4 separate regions of the Homo sapiens genome follow, and regions 1, 2 and 3 are each linked to region 4. Evidence: fine-mapped expression QTL. A gene starts in region 4. Each other region holds a variant in brackets. All regions are shown on one strand. Distances are between the middles of the regions.

Evidence for each region. PIP is the estimated chance that this variant, and not a neighbour inherited with it, causes the effect.
Region 1: its variant is fine-mapped to the expression of DAPK1 in whole blood (INTERVAL, PIP 0.98).
Region 2: its variant is fine-mapped to the expression of DAPK1 in whole blood (TOPMed, PIP above 0.99).
Region 3: its variant is fine-mapped to the expression of DAPK1 in whole blood (TOPMed, PIP above 0.99).

Annotation. Positions count from the first base shown.
Region 1 is chr9:87,556,073-87,561,726 of GRCh38, forward strand. The region is part of intron 2 of DAPK1 (death associated protein kinase 1); the gene reads left to right. Among named protein-coding and RNA genes, the nearest start is that of DAPK1-IT1, 5.4 kb to the left of the region's middle. RefSeq lists an enhancer at 3,687-3,856. The variant G/A (reference allele first, on the strand shown) is at 2,773.
Region 2 is chr9:87,614,767-87,620,420 of GRCh38, forward strand. All of the region lies in intron 3 of DAPK1 (death associated protein kinase 1), which reads left to right. Among named protein-coding and RNA genes, the nearest start is that of DAPK1-IT1, 64 kb to the left of the region's middle. RefSeq lists an enhancer at 4,879-5,379. The variant C/G (reference allele first, on the strand shown) is at 2,630.
Region 3 is chr9:87,608,292-87,613,945 of GRCh38, forward strand. All of the region lies in intron 3 of DAPK1 (death associated protein kinase 1), which reads left to right. Among named protein-coding and RNA genes, the nearest start is that of DAPK1-IT1, 58 kb to the left of the region's middle. The variant A/G (reference allele first, on the strand shown) is at 3,590.
Region 4 is chr9:87,494,591-87,500,244 of GRCh38, forward strand. It overlaps DAPK1 (death associated protein kinase 1), which reads left to right and starts at 3,277. Exons shown (of 26, transcript NM_004938.4): 1 at 3,277-3,517; 2 at 4,380-4,549. The coding sequence starts at 4,488. RefSeq lists silencers at 2,926-2,985, 3,006-3,355, 3,726-3,915, 4,126-4,235 and an enhancer at 3,626-4,383.

The DNA of each region.
Region 1 (5,654 bases), 61 kb after region 4:
TATGAAGAACTGTTTTTTTGTATTCTAATCTCCGTCACCGAAACTCATCAGTGATGCAGGACCCAAAAATAGAAGGACATTTTGGGTGGACATGTAGTTAATAATGACTTATGCAGCCCAGCACCTGTGTGGGCTGGCATTGTTCTAAGTGCTTTTTCCTGTGTTACCTCATTTAATCTTCACAACAGCGCTGTGAGGTTGGTACAAGTATTATGTTGATTTTATGGAGGAGGAAACAGGTGCAGAGAGGCAAGGTACTTTGCCCAAGCTTCCTTTGTCAAAGCTCACAGAGCTGGGGAGGGTGCCCACGTGTGTGTACCTGTACCCACTGTGCATGCTGCCCGTCACGGGCAAAGGGGCTTCCTTTTGCTGTCTTTGAATCATGGATTTATTCAGTGTCATGGGAAGCCATGCATGGGTTAGTATTCTGGCCACATCAGTGAATGCTACAGCCTGGCCCCATCATGCTAATGTCAGGAGGAGTGCGGGGGATTGGCAGAGCATGGGGAGGATGGCGGTCTCCTGCTGAAACTCTGTGGAGTAGCCTCAGCTACCCTTTCACAGAGCAGGGTTTGGTCTCTGAAAGGTGAGGTCTTTCACTTGTGATCATGGTACAAGGCTGTGGTACTTCTCGCTCCAGGAGCTCGCTGGAGAACATATCGAGGCCTGTGTGGCTCCTCAGCCCATACCCTCAGGAGAAGGAATGCTCTCCTCAGGTTTGGAATTGCTTTTCTTGGTCCTTGTTTCTAGTAGGGAGTGAGAATAGACATGAGTTGTGCCTGCTGGGCAGAGCCTTTGCAGGCCAGGCCTCCTGGGCTGCCTTGGGCGTGTTCCTTGAAGAGCCAGTCCTGCAGTTGTGGGTGGGAGAGGAGCTTCTCTGAGATGTGTTATCAGGAACCTTGGCGGAGGTGGGCAGTTGACCTTCGGCTTTCCCCTTGGCCTCTAGGGATTCATATCTCATAAAGAACAGAAAAGAGGAAGGCAGCCTGGCCCTTCCCCTCACCCTTCCCTCTTGGCGGTGTTGCGGGAAGGGAGGAGCAACTCTTCCTCAACATCCTCGAAGCTCAGTGTCTGGCATTGTAAGGCCAGTGGTTTTCAAACCTCTGGGCTCAGAACCTTTGTTCAAAGCAAGTGTTACCTGGCAGCCACACATCCATCCAGGCAGCCCCATGAGGAATGCTCAGATCCATCTGAGAAGAGTCTGGAAACCCACATCTTCATTTCCCACCATGGCCCTGTCAGGGGAGACCCTTTGTCCTGTACCTTCCTGTCGTGTTCTTTCTACGTTTCACCCACTGCCTTCCTCGTCCTTCCAAATTAGATTATTAATCTCATGAAGAAAATACAGCTTTCTTCCTGTGATTCAAAACATCTTTTGTGAGCTCTAAAACCATGCCGATTAAGGAATTATGAATTTAAAATAATATTAAATGGTCAGTAGCTTTTATTGACAAATGATCTTGGGACAAAGCCATTAGATTTTTTTTCTATCTCTTACAGAACCCCCCTCCTGTTAAAACATTACTCATTGAGAAGTGATCCATTAAAAGAAAAATGTGTTGGATTTTAAAAAATACCTAATCCTTGGCAGGGCGCGGTAGCTTATGCTTATAATCACAGCACTTTGGGAGGCCAAGGTGGGTGGATCACTTGAGGTCAGGAGTTCGAGAACAGCCTGGCCAACATGGTGAAACCTCGTCTTTACTAAAATTACATAAATTAGCTCGGTGTGGTGGCATGCACCTGTAGTCCCAGCTACTTGAGAGGCTGAGGCTTGAGAATCACCTGAACCTGGGAGGCGGAGGTTGCAGTGAGCTGAGATGATGACATTGCACTCCAGCCTGGGTGACAGAGTGAGACTCCGTCTGAAGACAAACAAACAAAAAACAAAAACCGAATCCTTTAGCCAGGCGTGTCTCTTGTTGGATAAGTCAGTTTGGAATCTTTTGGATGTTTTCCTTCTTTTACTTGCTCAGCCATAATAAATCTTTCATTTTAATTTTGATCAGCAGCATTGTGAGGTCCTGCCCAGTGTGGTAATGGGCAGTTAGCTTGTCACAGTCCTGTCATCTTGCCAGCCCCTTGAGAGCTGCCAGAAGCTTGTGGTCTGTCTGGTTTCACATGGTGGTCATGGACTCTCTTAGGGACTCACATGTTACTGCACAGTGGGTATGCATCTTGGCCTGTCAGCACCTCTCCCTGAAGCATCCCAGGAGCTATTTACCAAAATGGATCATGCTCTTTTGTCAAGAGCAGGCCACTGGACTGCATTGCACCCCTGAGGATATACCCACAGATCAACGGGACAGAATAAATAAAGCAAGATGAAAAAGAATGAAGGGATCTAGTCGAATAAGCTTTGCAACTAAAAATCTTCCATGAATACAGGATCTCAGAATCACTTGATAATATGCTCCACATACATAAGTACACATATGCACACACACACAGCCGTGTGAGTACAGATACACAAGCTGTAAGGTGGTCATTGCACACCAACGTCCCTTTCGACGAAAACGAACAATTCCTCGATACTAGCTGGTCTCTTGGTTTCTGCTGTTTGTGACTTGTCATTGCAGGGAAGGGCTGTGATGGAGGGAGTTTTTGTTGACTTGGTAGTTCCTGTCTGCAGACCCCTTCATTGCTTCATTGGATTCCTTGGACAGCCTGCTATAGCCACATGGGGGCTCAGTTAGAGCCTGCTCTGTGAGCTGCATCTACCCATTTGGGCTCCCACGTGCAGAAAGCATGATTCCCATGCTCCATGTGGGC[G/A]GACTCCTGTTAGGCAGGTGGGAAAGGAGAAACCAGACTGCCTGGAACCTGCCCACAGGGCCTCTACCCAGTGGGGCATCAGGGAGGTACCACCCATTCCAGTCACTTGTTGAAAACTGTTCCCACTCTGGGGGAGGGGAGGGTAAGTCATGGTCTCTCTCTGTAAGAAATCACAGGTGCATGTGTGTGCACATGCATGCACCAGCTATCTCCTCCTTCTCCCCAACAAAATGACAGTTGGCATTCGTAGAGCCTGTACTCTGAGACGGGGATTTTGTGCTTGACGTGTATTATCTAATTTAATCTACTTAACCCTATAAGTTAGATGAAATATTATCCTTGTTTTACAAATGAAGAAATTAAGGTAGAGGTAATGTGTCATCTCTAGTACTCTAGAGTTTCTAATGCCCCAGGTATGCTTCTTTTTATTACAGGATAGGCTAGGGTAGGCTAGGGTAGGCTAGGCTAGGGTAGGGTAGGGCAGGGCAGGGTAGTGTAGGGTAGGGTAGCATCTACACCAATGCTGTGCATAGACCTTTCTGCAATTATGGGAATGTTCTGTGCCGCCCAGTGTGGTAACATCTAGCCACATGTGACTGTTGAGCATGTGAAATGGGACTAGTGTTTCCAAAAAGGTAAATTTTTAATATTCTTTAATTTTAGTTAAATTTCACTAGCACCGTGACTAGTAGCTACTGTGGTGGACTTTCCCTGCAGCTGAGGGCCCTCCCAGGACGCTCTCAAAAGCAGGATGTAGGACGCCTTGGACTTGATTAGCACTGTTTGATCATTGATTGATTTGAAAGATCTTTGCTGAGCCCCTCCTAGGTACTAAGCAGCTCAGGCTGTGAGAATGTCTGAACTCCAAGAATTGCTGCATGGTTCTTTTTGAACTGAGACCAGTGAGCAGGCGAATGTCTACAATAGTCCCGGGTGTTGGAAAGGACTCTGGTGTGGACCTTTGATGCCTGCTGCCCCAGTGAGTGACCCAGTGTCACCAGACTCGTGTGCCCACTCCTCAGAAAGGCCCCCATTCTTCATGCCCCCTATCTTGCCCTTCCTCTGCCTCCATCCGCTTCTTTTGTCTCCCCACCTTGGTTTATGAAGTCTCCTCTCTCCTCTTCCCTCCTCTGCCCTTGAATCTTTTTCTTTCCTTTTTTCTTTTTTTGTTTTTTTTTGAGACGGAGTCTTGCTCTGTCGCCCAGGCTCGATCTTGGCTCACTGCAACCTCCTCCTCCCGGGTTCAAGCTATTCTCCTGCCTCAGCCTCCCTAGTAGCTGAGATTACAGGTGCATGCCACCACGCCTGGCTAATTTTTGTATTTTTTTTTTAGTAGAGACGGGGTTTCGCCATGTTGACCAGGGTGGTCTAGAATTCCTGACCTCAAGTGATCTGCCTGCCTTGGCCTCCCAAAGTACTGAGATTACAGGTGTGAGTCACCATGCCCAGCCTGCCCTTGGAACTTTAAAATTTATTTGAAAGTTTATTTTAATATGTGGTTACAATCACATAACATTACATTTACCATTTAAACATTTTAAAGCGTGCAACTGAGTTGTGTCAGCTATATCACATTGTTGCGTGACACTTCCCCAGAACTTTCTCATCTTGCAAAACTGAAATTTCGTGCCTACTAAACACAAACTCCCCCTTCCCCTACCCCTTGGCAGATATGAGTCTACTTTCTGTTTCTGTGATTTGGACTACTTTAGATACCTCACATGAGTAGAATCACACAATATTTGTGCTTTTGTGACCTGCTTATTTCACTTAGCATGATGTCCTTGAGGTTCATCCACGTTGAGGCATGTGTCAGAACGTACTTTTTTTTTTTTTTTTTTGAGACAGTCTTGCTCTGTCACCCAGGCTGGAGTGCAGTGGCATGATCTCCACTCACTGTAACCTCCACCTTATAGGATCAAGCAATTCTCCTACCTCAGCCTCCCGAGTAGCTAAGATTATAGGCACCCACCACCACGCCCGGCTAACTTTTGTATTTTTAGTAGAGACGGAGTTTCACCGTGTTGGCCAGGCTGGTCTTGAACTCCTGACCTCAGGTGATCCACCCACCTCGGCCTCACAAAGTGTTGGGATTACCAGTGTGAGCCACCGCGCCTGGCTAGGATGTGCTTCCTTTTTAAAGGCTGCATTCTATTCCATTATGTGTATAAATCTCATGTCATGTAGTCATTCATCCATCAGTGGACATTTGAGTGCCCTTGTCTTTTACTTTTTTGTCCTTTCCCTTCATTTTCCCCAAAATAAAATATGAAATTAAAATAGCGGAACCAATAATATATTAGATGAGGAGCCGTTTGTGCTTATTTCCTATCTTTTGGGCAGCAAGAGTTGAGCCTTTATGCCCTCCCCAATCATTGCTACAAAATACACCAAATATGTGGCCGGGCGTAGTGGCTCACGCTTGTAATCCCAGCACTTTGGGAGGCCAAGGCGGGCGGATCACGAGGTCAGGAGATCGAGACCAGCCTGGCTAACACGGTGAAACCTCGTCTCTCCTAAAAATACAAAAAATTAGCCGGGCGTTGTGGCGGGCGCCTGTGGTCCCAGCTACTCGGGAGGCTGAGGCAGGAGAATGGCGTGAACCCGGGAGGCGGAGCTTACAGTGAGCCGAGATGGCACCACTGCACTCCAGCCTGGGCGACAGAGCGAGACTCCGTCTCAAAAGAAAAAAAAAATACACCAAATATGTTAGCCAGAGTGAATTTCTATTCTAATGAAACCTTTCATTGATTTTTTATTTCTCTGGGTCATTAACTTCCCATTGAATAAAGAAATTCCCCAGACCTGCCCTGGGGGATTCCCCTGCTCCATGGAAGTTTGATAGGCATTGCATTTGGGTGCTAGAAATGGAAGCCCCTTAG
Region 2 (5,654 bases), 120 kb after region 4:
CTGCCGCCATCCTGGCCAGGCAGCTGCCTCTCTCCACCCAGAGCCAAGTCCCTTCCAGGCCCTGGGACTGCCTGTTTGGTGGTCAGGCTCCACTCAAACCTTCCATTTGGCTTTCCCCCACTCTGGTCATACGGAGTCCACATCCAGGTCTTGCTGTGCCCAGAATTCTGGGATGGTGACTGGAGTGAGGGTTGGAGACAGGCAGCCGGGGATGGTTCGTCTCCAGCTGGTACTCCAAGACGGAGAGTGCCTAGGCCACAGGTCATGAGAGCATTGCTTTATTAGATCAGTATCTGCAAGCAGGTCAGTGACAGTCTTCCCAAGACGTCCTTGAGCCCCTCAGAGCATCCCCTTCTGCCTCACGTCCTTGCAAAATGTGGTTTAACAAGCAAATACTTCCAAGAACAACCTCATACTGCTTTTTCCTCCTAATTTGTATTTCCAGATAACCAAGTATTACCTCACCTTCTTCTATTTAACAACTCTTTATTTCCCTGTGTGTAACTTGTTTTTAATATTGTCAAAATTACTGCAATGCAAATGAGGAACATCAGGGATCCAGCGGGACCGCTGGGAATATGTGCTTGTTCCGTGTTGAAATGTCAGTTTCATTTCCAGCCTCTGAATGAAGGCAGTGACCGAGCATGGCTACTGTGAGATGCAAACACTATTCAATTAACAGAGTTACATAGAAATGGGCTCAAGGACCTGGTCTTCCCTGGACGACAGAAGTGTCATTGACGTTTCCCCTAATATTTTGATAGGAAAATTCAAGTAGAGTTGATTATTTCAAAAATGTAGGGTAGAACGTTCACTACTTTTAAGGCACTTGCACTTAGGCATGGGTCTTCCCAAACTGCCTGAAGAGAGGATATGGTTAAACAACTGAGTGGCTTTCCTTGGAGGAAAAGGGAAACTGCCCTTCACTTTACCTTTCTGAGTCAGCCACAGTGGGCGCCTCCCTGAAATGATCTCATTTAATCCTTGCGTGCAACTCTAGGAGAGTGGTGTTACCACCCTGCAGGTAAGGAACGCTGTGCCCCCTCTGTCCACATATAGGTCACAGGAGCCGGTAGAGAGATGCTCATTCTCAGACAGTAGCCTCTTGGAGAGAGAATTCTTTTGTTTGAGTTTTCTAAGCCCTAGGATTCTGCTAAGCCACTGTAGGATTTTGCCTGCAAGGCCCCATTGTCTGTGGGCTGGTTGGCCAGCTTTGCTCTTCCTTCTTGAGAGTGACTTTCACATTCCAGTGGTTCTGGAGACACATTTGCTCCTCCTCCATTTGAAAGCAGTGATTTAGAAGCTTTTGAAAGCCAACCTGGCCTCCCAGGGCCCCTCACCTTTCTGCTTCCTTCTCTAGCGTGGCTGCATTGTTCTTGCCCCTCATTTCTTAGCATTTCCATGAAGTTGGGGGTGGGCAGAAGATGTTCTAGTTTTCCAGTGGGATTGCTGAAGCCTAGGAGTGGGATGGCTTCATGGGGGCTCTGGTGTGATAGTGGCATGTGCCTATATGCCCCTTGCATATGTTTCTTTGAGGGCAAGACTACGTCCTACTCTGGCACCCACAGCACTGAAGACTGTGCTTGGCCCAATACATGGATGTCAAGTCCAGATAGAGCAGGAAGAACAGCAGGATCTGAAAAAGAGTCACGTGTGGCTCAAGAACCAGTTAGTTGACCAGGGAGAAGGACAGTTTTGGGGGGAAACGTTGATTTACTTGCATGAGCTTCAGAAAACTCTTGACTGAGTTTCCTAAAGAGCAAAGTACCCCATCCTCTTGAGTATCAGGGTTTGGGTCAGTTTGGGTCCTACCAGGAAACAGACGGCCCACACAAACAGGGAAATTTGAGACTTAACAAACATGTGTGCAAGGTTTGGAGAACATGATAAGTGATGGGGAAGCACCCTCTGAGAATGGAGCTGTCATCACCCTTGGGCCTGAAAAGTAAAACAGGGGAGTGGTGTGAGGACCCTGGAATGGATAACTTCCTGGAGAGCACTGCATAACACAAGCTGAGCCTCAGTAGAGGGCCTCAGCCAAATCCACGGCCACATGGCTGGAAACTGTTCTCCTTTTCTGTGGGGCTACCTGTTGGCCAAACCAAACTAGTGTCCTGTTTTCAAGGGAACCTTTTGATTCAGTCTCTATGAGCAGCCTCCCTAAACCCAGAAGTGGATGTAGGAGATTGGAGCATAGATCTGGAGAGGCAGGGAGAAAGTAACTTCACTCTGGGTTCAAAGAGATTTGTCTTGGTTCTCTAGTCCAGATGACACTTCAGTCCTGATGCTGTAGCTAAGTAGTTACAACCCAAACTTCCCGGTGTCCCCCTTCCCCAATGGCATCCTTCCACTGAAAAATGCACAATTTGTCACTGCATAGTTAGGGTCCATTTGATCTCATGCCCTCTTTTCTCAAAGACTTTCTGCCCATCAGAAATTCTTTAAAAGGGAGTACATTTTTTTGGAAGCATGATCCCCTTTTGTTTTTCCTATTTTCCACTTCCTTATTGGAATGGGGAGGTAGAGACATGGAGGGTGAGGGCCAGAAGTCTTGGCTCTTTGGCAGGTGATAGCTTTCCATTGCCAGGGCCACTTGCCTAGCAGGAAAGCTCAACACCACCTACCTCTT[C/G]TACCCCTTGGGTGCCACATCCATCTCAGAAGGGATGCGAGTGGTCTTGGTGCTCCTTGACATCCACGTTTATAATGGATGCAATGGGAAGAGTTTTCCTGGAGACAGGACGCAATCCATACTCACTCCCTTCTCTTCCTTGACTCTCATTCCCCCTTCAGATCACTTTCATCTACCTTCCATTTCCACTACTGCCACTGAAAGGGTGCTGCCAAAACTTTCTTATATTTATTGCAAAGTGTATTAATTTGTATGCAGCCCATGATACTCAATTGTCACCTCCTAATCAATTGGTAATCCCTACAGATGTGTCTCTAGGTCTCTCTGGAGCCCTACAGTTGCTTCTCCAGTGGCCTACTCGACATTTCCTCCAAGACGGGTCTCCCCAGGTACCTCAACTTCACGTGTCTTAAACTGGACTCATAGCATTCCCTCCATAGTCCCTGCTCCCCTCTGCTTCTCTAGCTCAGTCCATGGCATCTGCATCTTCCTGGTTGCTCAGACTGGGAAGCTTGGAGCTCTCCTTGCTTCATTCTTCTCCCCTATTCTCCACTGTGGCACACATCTAGTCTTCCGTGATGTCCTGCAGGCTCTGCCACAGAAAGAGCTTCTGAGTCTTCCCTTATTACCATTCTCTTACTTTGGCCCTGGCCCAGAATCTCAAGAATTCTTCCTGAATTATTACAGCATCCTCTAGTTTCTCTCCTGTTGAGCTCACCCCTGGATTCATTACAAAACAGCTGCTTCTCTTGCTGAAGAATCTTTGGTGAATGGCACATGAATAGATGCTCAATATTATTAGTCAGTAGGATCTATAACTCAGAAGCACTGTGAGATGGCGCTTCACACCCACTAGGATGGCTCTAATCAAAAAGACAGGCAATCTCAAGTGTTGGTGGGGATATGGAGAAATTGTAATGCTCAAACAGTGCTGGTGAGAATGTAAATTGTTCCAGCCACTTTGGGAAACAGTTTGTCTGTTCCTCAAAATGTTAAACGTAGTTTTCATAGGACTCAGCATTTCCACTCCTCAGACTGTACCCAAGAGACATGAAAATATATTTCCACATGAAAACTTACACATGAAAGTGGTAGAAGTATTATTCATACTAGCCAAAAAGTGGAAACTAACCAAATGTCCCTCAGCTAGTGAACAAAATATGGTATGTCCATTCAATGGGCTGTTACTTGGCAAGGAAAATAACTGTGACAACATGGATGAACCTTGAAAACATGCTAAGTGAAAGAGGCCAGACCCAATAGACCACCCACCCTATGATTTTATTGACATGAACTGTCCAGAGTAGGCACATCTGTGGAGACACAAAGTAGCTGCGTGGCTGCCGAGGGCAGGTGGGAGTGTGGTGGGAAAGTAGGGTGGCTACTCATGGACACAGGGCTTCTCTTGGGGGTGATAATGTTCTAAAATTAGATTGTGGGGATGGTTGCATAACCCTGAAAATACTAAAACCCAGTGAGTGGTACACTTTAAAAGAGTGAATTGTATGGTGCGTGAATTATATATCAAGAAAGATTTAATCTTGGATGACTCCCTCCTGCCCGCTGAATGAGGTCCATGATTGGTAGAGTGGTGCAGAGCCTTTGAACCTGTGTCCAGGCCCCTCCCCATATTCATCCATGTCTCTTCCACCCCACTTTGCCTCTGCCCTGATGCTCCACCCACAGAGAATGTCTTGCCATTGCCAGATCACACCTGTTCCCCTGTAGAACTCCTACTCATCCATCAAAACCCAGCTCACATGTCACCCTCTCTGGATTTCCTACCCACTCCAGTTAGGTTTAATTGTTTTTGTACTTGTGTTTTCCTCACTTTTTAGGCGTGTGTCGATTATAGCACATACTGTACTGTATTTTAAACATTTATGTGTCTCTCCTGCAGTGGACTGTGAGCTTCCTGAGGATGTGCCAGTATTTTACTGATTTATTTTTCTGTGCCAACCTTGTAGGAGAGGATGTACATGCTAGCACACTGTCAGTGCCCAGTGAAAGTGGTTGAAGTTGAATTCTGTCAGGGAGACTGGCTGGGAAACAACAGTAAGGACTCTGAGGAACCGCAATGAGGAGCTTTTTCATGGCAAGGACAGTGGGGTGAAGAGAGGAAACAGAGCCACAGGCACTGCTTCCCGAAGGCTCTGCCTTGCACGTGACCTGCCATACTCTAAGTAGTCCTCTCTCATGAGAACGGGGCAGTTTGTCAGCAGGGCTGATTTCCACCCTGGGCCTGAGAGGATTGAGACGCAGGACCATGTGTTCAAGCTGGATGCATGGGATGGGAACGAGCTCAATAGAAGGACAGTCGATGGGACTCCACGGGACAGGCATTGAGAACCTATTATATGGCCGGCATTGTTATGCTAGAGGCCAATGACAGTCAGAGGTGGGCGGTTGAAAGTAATGCTGCTGATTGTCGTTGTCATCTGGTAGAGTCATGCCCATCACGTAACAGCTGCCAATGCATATTTCTGCAAAGAAGGAAAGAAAGCCGATGAGCTCTTCAGAAGATGAGCTCTTCAGACAATCCTAAGTCTCCTTTACCCATTACAGCATCCTCCATGGCACTCACCCCAATCTTACTCTGGCATGCATGGGCCCAGACAGACGATGCTGTTGAAAAGGAGATCTGAACCTCATCTGCTCTCCTTAGAGGCCTCTGGTGGGGGCAGATCTCTGCTCTCAGCCCCTGCTTCCAGCAGAGCGGGGTTTCAGGCCACCCTCTCCCTGGCCCTCTCCCCAGGTGGGCGGTGGAGACCCTCTGCTCGTGCCCCTCCGCTCGTGCCCCTCCTTGGTCTCTGATTCCCTCTCCTCTCAGGGCCAGGTGTTTTAGAGCTCAAAGAGGGAAACTGGGATAGAAAACGTGTGACAGCCTTAGCACCTGCTGAGTGAATTCCAGCTCTTTCCCCTTTTCCATCGCTTCCTCCTCCTCAAACCCTTCTTCCCCCTCCTCAGACTAAGGGAAGAATCGCTCTGCTCTATGCCTGTTAAAATTGCGGCTCTCCATGTCTCA
Region 3 (5,654 bases), 110 kb after region 4:
ATAATGCATTGGAGATTTGTGCATGAAGAGTGAGTCCGTTTTTATTACTGAGTAGTATTTCATTGTATGGATTTTTTATAAACCATTCACCCATTTGGGTTGTTTCTGGTATTTGATAATTAGGAGTAAAACTGCTACAAACATTCCCATACAGACTTGTGTGTGGGCATAGGTTTTTATTTCTCTTCAGTAAATACCTAGAGATCTTGGGATTGCTGGATCGTGTAGTAAATGTATGTTCAACTTTATGAGAAACTGCCAAGCTGTCTTCTAAAGTGAGCATACCGTTTTACAGTCCCTGCAGCAATGGATGAGAATTCCGATTGCTCCACCAGTGGGGCTCTGTACTGTTTTTCAATTGTAGGCTTTCTAATAGTTGCATCTTGGCATACAGCTTTACATTGTTAACTGCATGATGACCCTAAATGAAAGCTGAGCGATCTCACTAGGAACAGCTTTTAGATGGAGTGAGCGGGAGGGCCCTTAGGAGCTGGCCACATCCTTCACAGGGCTAGACAGGTCCCTGGTTATTTGCTCTTCATAAATTCTAGTGTCCCCTAGGAGCTGACTATTTTTGCCTCTTCACCACCCAGGCATCTGAGGGGTTGTGATGGTTACCTTCATGTGTCAACTTGACTGGACCATGAGGATCCCATATATTTGGTCAGACATTATTCTGTGAGGATGTTTTTGGGGTGAGATTAGCATTTGAATCAGTAGACTGAATAAAGCAGAACACATTCGGGAATGTGGGTGGCTCCGTCAATCTGCGGGAGGCCCGAATAGAACAAAAAGGCTGACCCTAAGTAGGAGACCATTTTTCCTGCCTAACGTGGCTTTGAACTGGGACACCGGCTTTTCCTTGCCTTTGGACTTAAACTGAAGCATCAGCTCTTCCTGCGTCTTGAGCCTGATGGCTTGGGCTGGAACTACACCAGCAGCTCTACTGAGTTGCCAGCTTGCCGACTCACCTGGCAGATTTGGGGACCTGCCAGCTTCCATAATAATGTGAGCAAATTCCTATATATGCATATGATGCGTAGGATGCATATGCACGGTATGATGCGTGTTTCTCTGGAGAACCCTGATAATACAGTGGCACTAAGTACCTAAGAACAGAAAGTGCACCCTTACTATTATCTTGGAAGTCTGTCCCATTTTTTATGTATTTACGTTACCTTGAAGAGGTGTGTTATAATTTTTTTTCTTTTTGCTATACTTGTTTTGGAGGTTATGTTTTATAATTTTTAATAGACTATTGAAAATATTAAATCTGTCCAGGAGAAACAGTCGTCTTTGCCTTTGAGAAAATTATCATCCTAAATTCTAATGTCTTTAACAGAAGCTTTAGTCATCAGTGACAGATTCCATTTCCACTTTTCTTTCTTAAGAATGCTGAAGTACAGGGGTGGTTAGGGAGAGAATCAAAATGAAGAACTTGTCAGAATATAACCCCAGGAGGTAATAGTGGCTGTGTGTCTGAATCTTCTGGTTCAGTAGTTTCCGTGTGGATATAGTTTTTGGATTTACTGCTTTGACATGAAGTCCACGGCAAGTCGAACTTCCTCTGAGGGTTAGTGATGAAGCGGGTCCCCTTGTTGAAAACTTGTGCCTGTCTCTACCTTATATATGTGAGTTCTGTCCTCCAGACTCCATGCCCATCCTTCCCACTGAAATAAACATCCCAAACTACCCCTTCTCTTGGTATTTCATGAACCACTGCCACTGACCCAAAAAGGTATCTTTGCTGTCCTTTGTACAGAAACTATTTGGGATCTGCATTAATGGTGCAGTTGTCAAATCCCAGTCCAGGATCTGCCCTTTACCATTTTTGCAAGCCTGAAAGTCGCTTTAAAGGCATATGTTTTTCCCCTACTTGCTTCACTGGAGAATCATTCACAGAGGATCTGTCATTGCAGCTCAGCATAGCATATACCTGAAGGAGGCAAATGTGATTTCTTAAAATCACGATTTCGGATTTCATGTCCTCCACGTCCCATTGTTCTCTAATGAAGTCGTGCCAATACCAAAATTTCTTCTTACTGTGTTGCAGCTCACCCACACATCATCACACGGGCAAGCCACTACAAAACTTTCACCTTCAGTGCTTGAATCGTTTCATAACTCGCCTTGTTATCTGGTGAAGGGCGAAGCCAAACTCACAGAACTTAAAGTCGATGCTATTTCTAAAGTGTGTGGCATTGTTCCTCAGCAGCCCTGGCTTCTAGCTTTCCATTCCTAAACTTGCTGCTCAGAAACAGCTAGGTATTTTGGTCTGTGGATAGTTATGCATTTTTCTGTCTAGCTGTTGTCTGCCCAGCCATTGTTCAAACCCAAGTGCCCTTAGGGGCTAGGCATACAATGTAAATGAGGATGGTTGGCCTCCATGAAGCCTCAGTGTCAGGGATGCACCAGCCGTGGAGACTGTGGCCCACTGGAGCCCTGAGGCCCCACCCCGAAGGGACAGCCACCAATCAGTTGATTGTTCCTGTGTGTAATTTTGGATTCAGTGTTGTCAGCTCTTCCAGTTTTTTCAGGAAAAGTCTGTAATCTAGATTTTTAATATTGGCAGTCAGTTCATAGTATTCACGAACAGACAAAATAAAACATCTGAAGATTGTGTGTCTTGTACACAATCCAAATTCTAGCCTGTTTTATGTAAGCACATACTTTATCTAGCACATACTTTATCTAGCACATACTTTGTAAGTATGTGAGCACATACTTTATCTAGCACAGACTTCCAAATTCTAGCCTGTTTTATGTAAGCAATAAGTTGATCACTACTATAGGAGAAGTAACATGAGAAAGACTGCCTCAAAGGGTTAGTGATTCTATGGGAAGGGCAAGATGCACACTTAGCATTATAAAATGATTTTTTTAAAAAATATACAGTTTAAAACAGTGGCTCTTAAACTTTAGCATGCATCAGAATTGCCTGAAGGGCTTGTTTGACTATTTGACAGGCTTCCAGAGTTTTGTATTCAGTGGGTTTGGGGTGGGACCTAGGCGTTTGCATTTTTATTTAATTTTATTTTTCCTAGAGACGGGGTGTCCCTATGTTACCCAGGCTGGCCTCAAGCTCCTGCACTCAAGCGCTTCTCCTGCGTCAGCCTCCTGAGTAGGTGGGACTGGGGTGTAAGCCACTGGGCCCAGCTCAGAATTGACTTTTTGGTTTTTTTCTTGAGACAGGGTCTCATTCTGTCACCCAGGCTGGAATGCAGTGGTGCAATCATAGCTCACTGCAGCCTTGAACTCCCGGGCTCGAGTGATTCTCCCACTTCTGCCTCCTGAGTAGCTGGGATTACAGGTGTGTGGCACCACACTCAGCTATTTTTTATTTTTTGTAGCTTCAGTGTCATTTTGTTGCTCAGGCTGGTCTCGACCTCCTGGGCTTATGCAGCCCTCTCACCCTGTCCTCCCAAGTTGCTGGAATTACAGTTGTGAGCCACAACGCCCAGCCAGAATTTCAATTTTTCCTTTTTTCCTAACCTTGAAAGCCAGAATTTCCATTTTTAACAGATTCCCGGGTGATGCGGATGCTGCTGGTCTGGGTTCATCTTTTGAGAGGCTGTGCTCCCCAAAAAGG[A/G]TATGTTGAAGTGCTATGTCCCTGTCTTAGTTCATTTTGGGTTTTGCAATAACAAGACCACAGACTGGGTAATTTATAGAGAAAATAAGTTTATGTCTTACAGTGCTGGAGGCAGGAAGTACATTTTGCTGCATGTGATGTGAGTCTTCTTACTGTCATAACATGGCAAAAGGCATCGCGTGGCAAGAGAGGGCAAGAGCCCACTCCCAGGAGCCCTTTTTTAAAGGTACTAAACTGACCCATGAAGGTGGAGGAGCCCTTATGGCCTAAATTTCTTCTTAAAGTCCCTACCTCTCAACACTCTTACAATGGCAATTAAATCTCAACTTGAGTTTTGGAGAGGACAAACATTCAAACCGTAGCACCATAGTATCTCAGAACATGACCTTTTTGGATATGAGATTGTTTTAGATGTAATTAGTTAAGATGAGGTCATACTGGAATAGCACAGAGAACCTAATCTGATAGGACTGGTGTCCTTATAAGAAGGCCCTGTGGAGACAGAGGAATGGAGTGAAGCATCTATACGCCAAGGAACCTGCCAGAAACTAGGACAGAGGCATGGAGCAGATTCATCCTCAGATCCCTTAGAAGGACCATCCCTACCAACGTACTGAGTTAGGACTGCCAGCCCCCAAAACTATGTGATAGCAGGTTGTTGTTTTAAACCACCCCATGTGTGGTCCTTTGTTAGGGCAGGCCTAGGAAACTAACACAGAGGCACCAGTTAACAGAAACTAGATTTCCTGGACTGGGAGCCTACTCGCATGTTGATCTAAAATTCTATAAGCAAGTTAGAAACAAAACAAAACATAATGCCTAATTATGGTAATGCCATCAGGTAACTGCAAAATGACGCAATACATACATCTCACTCCCTGCAGATAGCCTGAGCAGAGAAGGATTGGAGCGGGGGTGGGGGTTTGGAGTCTAACATAAGATAAGGAAGAAATGGACATCACCAGGTTCTGGCCTGCTTCAGGATGGTCACCTGAGTAGCTCTGGATCACATGTCTGAAAGGTTACCATGTTAAGAATTATAAAGTAAAAGTGCTAAGATGGCCAAGTAAGTATTGGCATGGTGGATTGTTCCAGAGAAATCAAGCCAGTTTGGTTCTCCAATCCTAAATGTCTCCCCTTATTTGTTCTGCTTCCATTTCGAAGCACATCTTTAAAACAGAGTAACCCCATTTAGCTTTCTCTCTCTTTCTTTGTGACAGGAAATTCCATTTAATTAGTGCAGTCTGCTATGGTTGTAGCCAAGTGCAGGGCGTGGAGTGAATAATGCATTTTTTATATTTAAAAAGGTAAATTTTGCTGATTTTTTTAATCATGGTAAAACAACATACAGTTTACCATCTTAACCATTTTTAAGTGCACAGTACAGCAGTGTTAATTCTATGCATATTGTTGTGCAACAGATTTCTAGAACCTTTTCGTCTTGCAAAACTGAAATGCTGTGCCTATTGAACAACTCCTTTTTAGCTCTGTGTTTTACTTTGGCTAAGTTAATAATTTCTGGAATTCAGTTTGCCCATCACAAACAACTGCTAAGTTGTATTCAAACATTTGTGCAATATTAGGTCACTTTATGTAGGATCACGGTTCAGTTGGCTCACTCTCTCATAACCAAACTGAGATGCAAAATAATCAGAATACAAATACAACTTTGTTTTTCATTGTATGTCAGCGTGGTGCATGTATGTAGACGAACACATGGTGCCTTGGTCAGCAAGATCAGAATCGCAAGAGCCTTTGAAGAAACACATGCAGTGATTAAAGTGATAGTTTCAAAGGATCTTAAAAGTGGCAAAAATTGTACAGAGCTGAATGTGGTGGTCGGGACTTAGGGAAGCTGATAAATGGGGTGTGTGGCACAGAGCCCTTCAGTCTCCCTGTCTCTGCTTCTCTCTGGGCGCTCACGAACCACAATAGCACACACTCAGACTTCCTCAATGCGTTCTTTTGCTGCCACATTTGTTCTCTCTTTTCTGAGCTCGAGCCAGCTCTTTTGACTTTTTGAACTTTTGTCTTTATTCACAAAGGTAATTTCAAGAGCTCTTGT
Region 4 (5,654 bases):
TAAAATATCCAACATTCTGGTGTATTTTATAATGTACAAAGTCCTGTTTCATGCATTATCTCTTTAGATTCTCCCAACAAACCCAAGGAATATGTAAGGGTCTATAATCATCTTCATTTCACAGGTGATGAAACTGAGACGTTTACATGTAAAGTGGAAATAACCACTTATTTATTTATTTATTTATTAAATAAAAACCCCGCTAATTTATTTAAAGATTAATTGAGAGAATTATTTCATCTGTCTGGAACCTGGTATGTGTTAAGAGAAAAGTTTTCTTAATTTTTCTTTTTAAGAAGATAATCTATTGCTACATAACAAACCACTCTGAAATAATGACTTAAAACATTAAAAGTCATTGATTTTGCTCACAGAACTTGAACTGGAAGATATAAACAACTGGGAGTGAGGGTGGGGCTGGACAGCTGGCTTCTCTGGGCATCTCTCGTTCTTTCTGTGGTTTTGTCACATGTCTCTACATGGCAGCCCTAGGGTAATCATGACAGCTGAAGGCTTTAGAGTGGGTGGAGGGGGAGAGGGAGGGAGGGAAAGAGAGAGAGAGAGAGAGAGAGAGAAAGAGAAGCAAGCAGGCAGAAGCTCTAATGCCTTATGACCTAACCTTGGAAATAAATTACACTGTGCCACTGCCACTACCTTTTCTTAGAAGCAAGCAGATAGGGTTGGTGAATATTTATTGAGAGGGGAATTAGACTCCACCTCTTGATTGGGGGAGTGTCAAAGAATTTGTGAATATGTTTTTAAATGACCACATTTCCCCTTTCTAAAATGCTTGTCTAAATTGGTGTACACAAAAAGCTCGGGGGTTAGTGACTCATCCAAGGTTATTAAGCTGTTAAATGGTTCCACCAATACTAGATCTAATTTTGTGACTCCAAATTTCATGCTCTTTTTCACTACTCCAGATAATCTCCGGTGAACATCATTGTCCATTAGGGTAGTTAAGACATTCTAGCTGCCAAATAGATTCAGTCCTTTTAATTGCCTCGGACAATATATTTTTTATTTTGCAGAAAATAAATATTACCCATATGGCAGTCATCCATAAACACCTTCCAAGTTTATCCCAAACATCTGTGTTTTAAATTTTTTCTCCCAACAGATGTATTCATTTGCATTTTCCCAGATGAATCACTCTTTTTTTGTTGTTGTTGTTATTTTTGACTGTATTTCTCACCTCTCAAGACCCTTTTGTATTATCAAGCCCACTGCTTAAGCTAATACCATCTCCCAATTTGGGGACTTCCCCTTGATTCCTGTGTGCCCTTCCTGTGGGTCATTAATGCAATGTTATTTAAGACTAGGATTTGGCTGGGCGCAGTGGCTCACGCCTGTAATCCCAGCACTGTGGGAGGCCGAGCCGGGAGGATCACCTGAGGTCAGGAGTTCAAGACCAGCCTGACCAACATGGTGAAACCACGTCTCTACTAAAAATACAAAATTAGCCGGGCATAGTCACATGCCTGTAATCCCAGCTACTGGGTAGCCTGAGGCAGGAGAATCGCTTGAACCCGGGAGGCGGAGGCGGAGTTTGCAGTGAGCCAAGATTTCACAACTGCACTCCAGTCTGGGCCACAAGAGCGAAAACCCGTCTCAAAAAAAAAAAAAAGACTAGGATTTGACATAAGGCCTGAGGGGTATTCTTTTGTTTTGTTTTGCCTTGTTTTCAAGAGGCCAAAATCTTCACAGTTGAAAATTTCTGTTGAACCACAGAGATTTGAACCAACTCAGTTTAGAAAGCCTGGGGATTTGAACAACGGTATGGATCGGAAATCTCTTCATCTGTCAGTTTTCATCATTCTAGGCAGTAAAATAGATTTCCCTTTAGGAGCTTTTCACCGTTTGGGGTTCTCCAGCAGTGGGATGTGGGGAATCAACCCTTCTTCGTCTCCACCCAAACATTAGGTGGGAGCAAGGGGTGGGAAGTAGAGAAAGTGGATAGAGGTCTCCAGTGGATATGGGATCTTTGTGTAGACCAGCACAGTCCTCAGAAATCTCATGCAAGCAACATAGGTACTGTTATATTTTCTAGTGGCCACCTTTTAAAAAGTAAACAGGTGAGGCCGGGCGCGGTGGCTCACGCCTGTAATCCCAGCACTTTGGGAGGCCCAGGCGGGCGGATCACGAGGTCAAGAGATGGAGACCATCCTGGTCGACACGGTGAAACCCCGTCTCTACTAAAAATACAAAAATTAGCTGGGCATGGTGACGCGCGACTGTAGTCCTAGCTACTGGGGAGGCCGAGGCAGGAGAATCACTTGAACCCTGGAGGTGGAGGTTGCCACGCTCCACTACACTCCAGCCTGGCGACAGAGTGAGACTCCGTCTCAAAAAAAAGAAAGTAAACAGGTGAAATTAATTTTAATAATATATTTTGTTTAACCCAACGTATCCAAAATACTATCATTTGAAAGTGTAATGAATATAAAAATATTCATGAGATATTTTTCATTCTCATATCCATACTGTCTTGGACTCTAATGTGTATTTTACACTTACAGCACAATTAATTTGGGACTAGCTACATTTCAGCTCAACAATAGCCAATAGCATATGGGATAGCGCAAATAAACTCTGCGTCTCTGTTGCTTCTTTGGGTCTCGGAGACCTCAACCCTTTCTTCAGATTGCAAACCTTCTTGCCTTCAAGCCTCGGCTCCAACACCAGTCCGGCAGAGGAACCCAGTCTAATGAGGTACGCTCCCTTCCTGCCATTCTCTATTCCATTAACCTGTTTCGTGGTAAACGTAGGACTGATCCTCCAAAATTACCTTATTAATTAGCTTACATATTTATTATCTATCTGTCCCACCAGAATGCAGGTTTCCGGAAGGCAGGGATTTAAAAAAATCTGTTTTGTTCTATGTGATTTTCCCATACCAAGCACCGTGCCCGGCACAAGCTGGGATCCCAGTACACATCTCGGGACGGAAGAACCGTGTTTCCCTAGAACCCAGTCAGAGGGCAGCTTAGCAATGTGTCACAGGTGGGGCGCCCGCGTTCCGGGCGGACGCACTGGCTCCCCGGCCGGCGTGGGTGTGGGGCGAGTGGGTGTGTGCGGGGTGTGCGCGGTAGAGCGCGCCAGCGAGCCCGGAGCGCGGAGCTGGGAGGAGCAGCGAGCGCCGCGCAGAACCCGCAGCGCCGGCCTGGCAGGGCAGCTCGGAGGTGGGTGGGCCGCGCCGCCAGCCCGCTTGCAGGGTCCCCATTGGCCGCCTGCCGGCCGCCCTCCGCCCAAAAGGCGGCAAGGAGCCGAGAGGCTGCTTCGGAGTGTGAGGAGGACAGCCGGACCGAGCCAACGCCGGGGACTTTGTTCCCTCCGCGGAGGGGACTCGGCAACTCGCAGCGGCAGGGTCTGGGGCCGGCGCCTGGGAGGGATCTGCGCCCCCCACTCACTCCCTAGCTGTGTTCCCGCCGCCGCCCCGGCTAGTCTCCGGCGCTGGCGCCTATGGTCGGCCTCCGACAGCGCTCCGGAGGGACCGGGGGAGCTCCCAGGCGCCCGGGTGAGTAGCCAGGCGCGGCTCCCCGGTCCCCCCGACCCCCGGCGCCAGCTTTTGCTTTCCCAGCCAGGGCGCGGTGGGGTTTGTCCGGGCAGTGCCTCGAGCAACTGGGAAGGCCAAGGCGGAGGGAAACTTGGCTTCGGGGAGAAGTGCGATCGCAGCCGGGAGGCTTCCCCAGCCCCGCGGGCCGGGTGAGAACAGGTGGCGCCGGCCCGACCAGGCGCTTTGTGTCGGGGCGCGAGGATCTGGAGCGAACTGCTGCGCCTCGGTGGGCCGCTCCCTTCCCTCCCTTGCTCCCCCGGGCGGCCGCACGCCGGGTCGGCCGGGTAACGGAGAGGGAGTCGCCAGGAATGTGGCTCTGGGGACTGCCTCGCTCGGGGAAGGGGAGAGGGTGGCCACGGTGTTAGGAGAGGCGCGGGAGCCGAGAGGTGGCGCGGGGGTGCCACCGTTGCCGCAGGCTGGAGAGAGATTGCTCCCAGTGAGGCGCGTACCGTCTGGGCGAGGGCTTCATTCTTCCGCGGCGTCCCTGGAGGTGGGAAAGCTGGGTGGGCATGTGTGCAGAGAAAGGGGAGGCGGGGAGGCCAGTCACTTCCGGAGCCGGTTCTGATCCCAACAGACCGCCCAGCGTTTGGGGACGCCGACCTCGGGGTGCCGTGGTGCCCGGCCCCACGCGCGCGCGGGGCTGAGGGGTCGGGGGCGTCCCTGGCCGCCCAGCTTTAACAAAGGGTGCTCCTCTCCACCCCGCGAGGAGGGGCAGCTCCGGAGACCCGGTCTTCAGCGAGCGGGGTCTTAGCGCCGGGGAGGTCTACTTCCTTTTGGGGTTGCCATTTTACTATTATTATTGCCTTTTTTTTTTCTTCAAAAGGACTGGAGACTGATGCATGAGGGGGCTACGGAGGCGCAGGAGCGGTGGTGATGGTCTGGGAAGCGGAGCTGAAGTGCCCTGGGCTTTGGTGAGGCGTGACAGTTTATCATGACCGTGTTCAGGCAGGAAAACGTGGATGATTACTACGACACCGGCGAGGAACTTGGCAGGTAAAGGGGGTACCAGAAGCGTACCCTCCTGGATTGTGGAAATGCATAACGATGGGGCCATTGGGTGGTAAACAAATGCAGTTTGAATCAGGCGTCTCCCTCGCCCTTTCTGGAGATGCGCAAATCATAGAGAAAAGAGTTACTAACCCAGCGGTAAACCGCCTGATCCAAGGGCCTGGGGGTGGAGGAGAGGCAGCAGTTCAGGGCTAGATTATGATGCACAGTATATTGATCCAGTCCCCTGGACAAAATCAGATTTAATTGTCCGTGCTAACTCTTGTCAGCCCTTGCCCTTCTGTGACAACAGGACAAACACTAAGATTATAATTGCAATTGGAGTTAGCTTTTATGTGTGATTTAAACGGAGGGTACAAACTAATTAATAGGTTTTAAAAATCTTAGTACTTTACCCTCTATCTAAATTTTCAGTGTAATTTGAGCAAGTATTGGTAGGTGGTAAATGGAGACTTGCCAGATGTTGACATTGGGCTTGGATTTTGAAACTTCTTCCAACCAGGAATTTAATTACCTGGTTGGTGTTGGTGGTTGCTTTGGTTTCATTTACAATGTTAAATTTTTAACAAATCAATGAGAGTCTAATATGGCTATCTGGATTCAGAGCATACCTCCATTGCTGTAGCAGCTGTGATTCTCAGTGTAAAATCTTTCAGTTTCTAGGTAAACAAAGAATAGTTTCTTTCGGGGCATCTAAGGGCTGATTGCTGTTTCCTTTGACTGTGTATTAGACAGAGTGTTTTGGGCTCTGGTCAACTTTAGTAGAAAACCTAGTTTTCATACATACATTTAAAACTGAATTTATGGAATTTGACTGTGGTGTATTTACATTGTGAGTGGAGTAGGCAAAAGGATCTTTAAACAAACAAAATATGTATTTACTTATATGTGCATTGAAATATGTATTTTCCCATATACATCTGATGTCCTGATACAAAGCTTCCTTTTTCTCCATGAAAAGGAAATTAAAAAACACCCACATCCTGGATTGCCTAATGAGAATTATGGAAACTAAGCTTAACTAAATTTTTTTAAAAATTCAAATGATAGTGTAGAATTTTTTTAAAAGTTACTGTAACAGAGTATTTCT